Linked DNA regions of Homo sapiens: region 1 is linked to region 2. The links come from fine-mapping of genetic effects on gene expression. Tissue or cell type: whole blood. Region 2 holds a variant in brackets; the other region holds the start of a gene. All regions are shown on one strand. Distances are from middle to middle.

Region 1 (2,685 bases), 84 kb after region 2:
CGGGACCGGGATGGGCGAGGCTGCCGCAGAGAAAGGAAAAGAGGGCCATCTGTCAGCCCCAGGAGAGGAAATTCCAGGAGCCCAGTTCCCAGGCGCCGGACAGCGGGTGACGTGAGGGAACCGAATGAGAGGGTCCGCCCAGCGGCGGGGGACCTGTAGGCGGCCGGCCTCGGCGCTCAGAGGGCTCGAGGCCTGGAGAAGGGGCACCTCCATTCTTGGTCAGAGCCCTGGGAGTCGGGGTATTGGGAGGGTGGATCCTCTCCCGGACCCCCGGAACCAAAGATCTTCACCCAGCCCCGAGGGCCTCCTGGTGTCTCCGATCCTCTCCCTGGGCCCAAGGGATGGGGGCGCCTCGATCGTAGCCTGGACCGGAGCACTCCAGGGAGTCCCCTGGTTCCGGGGATGGAGGCGCTCCGAGCTCTGCCCGGGCCCGGGGGCTCTCGGCGGCGGCCCCGCGCTGGGCGGGGCGTGTCCCCAGCGCATCCGCGGTGGCGCCGGCCGGCGGCCCGGGTCGTAGCGCCCGCGCCGGGTCTGGCGCCCCCAGCCGGCCCGCTTACCGGTCGCGGGGGTCGATCCACGACGTCTGGCGCGTGTTGTGGTCAATGTAAAAGACGCGACCGTCGTAGTCTCGCGCCTCCTCCCAGCCGGCGGGCAGCGGCAGCTCGGCGCTCTCCCGGGCCCGCGGCGGCGGCGCGGAAGGAGCTGGGGGCGTGGGGACCGCGGCGGGGGGCGCCGGCGGCGCGGTTCCCGCTGGGGCTGCGCAGAAGGCGGCGGCTCCCGCGGGGCCTCGCGCGGCTGTCCCCGCCGTCGCCGCCGGCCGCCGCTCAGCCAAGGCATGACGGCGCGGGCCCCGCCGCCGCCCGGCCGCCCCGCGCGCGCCGCCTCCTCCGCCAGCACTAAGGCCCGGCGCCCGGGGCGCGGGGGCGGCCGCGGGGAGCCGCCCGCCGCTCCTGGCGCATCCTCCGCCCGGCGCCCGTGCACCGGCGTCCGCCCGCCCGCCCTAGCAAGCCGCTGCCCGCGCCGCCCACTCCGTTCAGGTAGCCCGGGTGGCCGCCGCGCGCGAAGTCACAGCCCGGGAGCCGCCGCCGCCGCCGCCGCCGCTGCCGGCCGCCCCTCCGTTCCCGCGGCGCGCCCGGCCATCTTCGTTCCTCGGCGCGGCCCGGGCGAGCAGGGGCAGGGCGTTCGCAGGCCCCGCCTCCGGCCGTCCCGCCCCGTTCTCACCCAGGCCCCGCGGCTCCTCCCACGCCGGCGGCTCCACCCACGCCGGCTGCTCCTCCCGAATCTCCCACGGAGGCTCCCGCTCCTCCCGCCGCCTCTGCTTTTCCACCCACTCCCGCTGCTCCGCCTCCCCCGGCCCCGCGTCCTCCGCGCCTCTCCGTCGCCGGCTGCTCCGCCCCCAGTCTCCCTCGGGGTCCTCCTCGGCGCTCGGCTCCTCGACCCCACCCCCACCCCTCCGCTTGCTCCTCCCCCTCCGCCGTCCTCCCTCTCCGCGCGCTCCTCGCTCTCTCCCTCCCGCTCCGCCACCTTCCTCCGGCCTCGGGAAACCGCATGGAGGCCAGGATGGGCGCCGCCGCGTCAGTCCGCCCCCGGGCCCCCGCGTAGAGGAAGGCGGGCGGGGAGGACGACGCCCTACCCGGACTGCGGGCGCGGCCTGCCTGGGGTGACTCCTCGGGCGCAAACAATTCCCGAGAGAGCGGGCAGTGCCCTCCCTTCACCCGCTCCCGGGCTCTGGCTGTCTGGAGACCCTCTGCGCACTTGGCGGGAGGCTGCGCCCTCGGTCTCCCACACAACCCGTCTGGTCCCGCGAAGGTGGGAAAAGCCCCTGAAGGCGGGGCCGAGGGAGCTGAGGAGCTGGGGGAGCCCGCGGCCGGTCCTCTCGGGCGGCGCAGGGAGGACGCCTCTGGAAGCGGGCAGCTGGGCAGGTGGCCACTTTGCGTCCCCGCCAGGACAGCCCTAGAAGGGCTAACCTGGGGGCCCACACTAGGCGGGAGTTCCTTGACCTTCCCTGAGCGCTTCATCCGGTTTGTGGGGTCTGATCGTTTGAGCGGAGACCCAAGTAGACCATTGCTGGGGAGGAAGCCGGGTCAACTCCTAAAACTTTCAGCCTAGACGGGAACTTCTGTTTCACTGGCTCCCAGCTGGGGAAGCTGAAGCTCCAGAGTTGGGGCTGTGTCTTGCTCTAAATCTCCCACCTACTTCGTGCCCCAGACCCACAGCCGCAACACGTTATGCCAGGAAATGCAGGACAGTATCAGGGAGATTTTTAAACAGTTACAGTGATACAAAAATATCTGGTAGAGCCTGATTGAAATCCAGATACACAGGGGAAGAGACTGGAGGAAAATGTCCTGAAATGCTCACAAGAGTTTGCATTCCTTTGGCGGGATTTTTAAAAATGATTTGCCTTCCAATTTTTTGTAAAATGGTAATATTACTTTTATGAGGGGAAAGGTTGTTTTAAAAAAGAAGAATGGGCCGGGCGCGGTGGCTCACGCTTGTAATCCTAGCACTTTGGGAGGCCCAGGCGGGCGGATCACGAGGTCAGGAGTTCGAGACGAGCCTGGCCAGCATGGTGAAATCCCCGTCTCTACTAAAAATACAAAAATTAGCCGGGCATGGTGGCGCACGCCTGTAATCCCAGCTACTCGGGAGGCTGAGGCAGGAGAACTGCTTGAACCTGGGAGG
Region 2 (2,685 bases):
CAACCAAACACGTAACAATCATGTTCCTAAGTGTAGCAAATTCCAGCACCCACACTCCGCAGTTTCACCAGAAACAGGCAAGAGCAGACGAATACTCAGAAGAGACAATCGCTCCTCACAAACTCTTGCAGGCTACAGAGAAGGAATATGCATGATAATGAAGAATCACCACACAGACAACTGGTATTGCCAAATGAACTTGGCACTGTTCTGTGGGGAAATTTAAAGCCCACCACGAGTCCATCCTAAAAAGCCAAGAGGCACTGGTTAGAAAACCTCCTAGAAAACAGAAGGCCCATGTCCGTTTAAGTTGGCCCTGGAGCACTGAATCATATGATGTGCTTTTGTTGCTATTTTTACATTTTTTAAAAAGCCAACAAAGTAGCTTTCCAGACGTCCATGAATGGTACAGTGTGCTGAGCAGGCCTAACTGTTTAGCTTCCAGAAAGAACTCCCTCACCCCACCCGACATTCTGCTATTCTGCTCTCCCCGCCCCCCATGACAATATTTCATTTGTGACTCAAGTAACTTTTTAAAAAAGATATGCTTGATACTCTTCTGAAGCACTTATTTGGAAATAATTTGGCTTTAAGACTCTTTCCAGAAGGCACAAACTAGAGAAAGTCCCTAAAAAGAGAATACAAAAGTCAGAGAGGAGAAGAATATTGAAAACGGGAGCCCTGCACAGCTGAGGAGACACGTGACGCCCTAAAATACTATGCCATGCGAGGGTTCGGAAGCCTCTCAGCTTTGTGCATGTCAGAGGATGAAGACTGGAAGGGAGGGAGGGAAGTGAGGAAAGAGAAACACAAGTGCACAAAGTGGGTCAAGCTGCAATTTGCAGGAGGCCAATGGTTTACGACACAGGACAACATAAATGGAATGAAATCAATTAGGTACTGCTCACCTGTTGACCTAATGCTTATTGAATGTCTTATAACCAAGATACATGGCTTTGCCCATTAGCTTATGGAGTTAGAAGCCACACATATAAAAGATCAAGTGGTTTCACTTATGACACCCTCTGGAACTGATGCTCGTCTATTGGAAGGAGGGAAGGGAAGGAGGGGTAGAGGTTCTGAACCACCGGGGATGACAAAGCCAAAAAAGTTTCTATTCTTATGGAATCACGTCTGTATAACTGTTTGTAATATTGCAAATTTCACATTTTAAATGCACTTGAAATGTTGTCATATGTATGTATTAAGCTACACGTAAATGAAGATCCTTGACTTGGTATTCTATCAAACGCTGTTCTCCGATGAGACGTGACCAATCACACACAGGAACTATGCCACGCTTCCTTCCACAGGAGAAAGTAAGTAAGTAAGCAGAAGGCGAGGTTGGAAAAAAGTGCTTCTTACCTCTTTCTGGCTTCTTCATATTGCCAATTAAGTCTGACTCGGTCTACAAGTCTTGTTTTATCATCAAAGACAAACTTTCCGGAACAGAAGAGAGAAAAAAAGAAAGGAAACGCATATTAAAAACATATTTCCAAAATAGCAACTTCACTTAAACTTTCGGCAGCAATGAGAAATATTCTTCATCTCTTTCACTTTCAATCTGTGCAAGGTCTGGAAGGAAACACTGAATAAC[C/G]CTTTGCGGCCACCCCTGGCTGGGGAGGGGGGAGGGGGAAGGGAAGACTCTTGCTTGCCTAAACTGGTAGGGTTTTTTGTTTTTTTTTACAGCAGCAGCATATCTATCTATTCTGTAATTCCAAACAACAACCACAAATTAGGTTTTAAAAGAAGTAGGAAATTACTTAGTAAAAGTTGATACAAAGGCAAAAACCAGTCACCCGATTTTGTGCAGTACATTCTCTAATTCCTCAGTAAACGTAAAATAATGATGTTCTACTCAGAAGCTCCACGGTCTGAGGAAGCTGGACTAGCTGTGTGACGGATGGGCTGGTGGACGCCTTCTGATGCCACGAGGTGTGTTAAAGAACCAAGGGCAAGCCAGGCGCGGTGGCTCACGCCTGTAATCCCAGCACTTTGGGAGTCTGAGGCGGGCGGATTACGAGGTCAGGAGATCGAGACCATCCTGGCTAACACGGTGAAACCCCGCCTCTACTAAAAATACAAAAAATTAGTCGGGCGTAGTGGCAGGCGCCTGTAGTCGCAGCTACTCGGGAGGCTGAGGCAGGAGAATGGCATGAACCCAGGAGGCGGAGCTTGCAGTGAGCCGAGACTGAGCCACTGCACTTCAGCCTGGGCGACAGAGCAAGACTCCGTCTCAAAAAAAAAAAAAAAAAAAGAACCAAGGGCAAAAGGAAAGCAAGCAAGGTCTCAAAAAGCCAGAGCTCGGGGAGTACCAATATAGAGTTAGCCTAAATGCGGTGCTCTGTGACGAGTAGATATACTTAAATATTTTTGTACCAGTTACATTGATGACAATAAAATCCTACACAAAACAAAAAAAGACATGTACAGGAAGTAACTGTAGTACATTTTGGTTAATTCCTCATTCCTGCAAATATTCACACAACTCCAGTTTCAATAAATCAGCTCCATCTGTTGATCTGACCTTACTAGATCACATATTATGGCCACCAAGTCTTTACATTTTTGAAATAACTTCCCATCAACAAGTATCTGAAAATATTCAACTTGAATGATTAGCAGTGAATTTATCGACACGAGTTTTGATCTATGTTGATGAAAAATGTCTTCGCAAATTTATTG

Evidence for each region. PIP is the estimated chance that this variant, and not a neighbour inherited with it, causes the effect.
Region 1: WWC3 starts here. The variant in region 2 is fine-mapped to the expression of WWC3 in whole blood (TOPMed, PIP 0.96). The same link has a PIP of 0.9 or more in blood mononuclear cells.

The regions. Positions count from the first base shown.
Region 1 is chrX:10,013,731-10,016,415 of GRCh38, reverse strand. It overlaps WWC3 (WWC family member 3), which reads right to left and starts at 1,162. Exons shown (of 24, transcript NM_015691.5): 1 at 743-1,162; 2 at 558-740. The coding sequence starts at 837. RefSeq lists silencers at 1,190-1,249, 1,290-1,459 and enhancers at 1,280-2,163, 2,164-2,685.
Region 2 is chrX:10,097,260-10,099,944 of GRCh38, reverse strand. It overlaps WWC3 (WWC family member 3), which reads right to left. Exons shown (of 24, transcript NM_015691.5): 9 at 1,366-1,439. Among named protein-coding and RNA genes, the nearest start is that of CLCN4, 58 kb to the left of the region's middle. RefSeq lists an enhancer at 1,512-1,561. The variant C/G (reference allele first, on the strand shown) is at 1,598.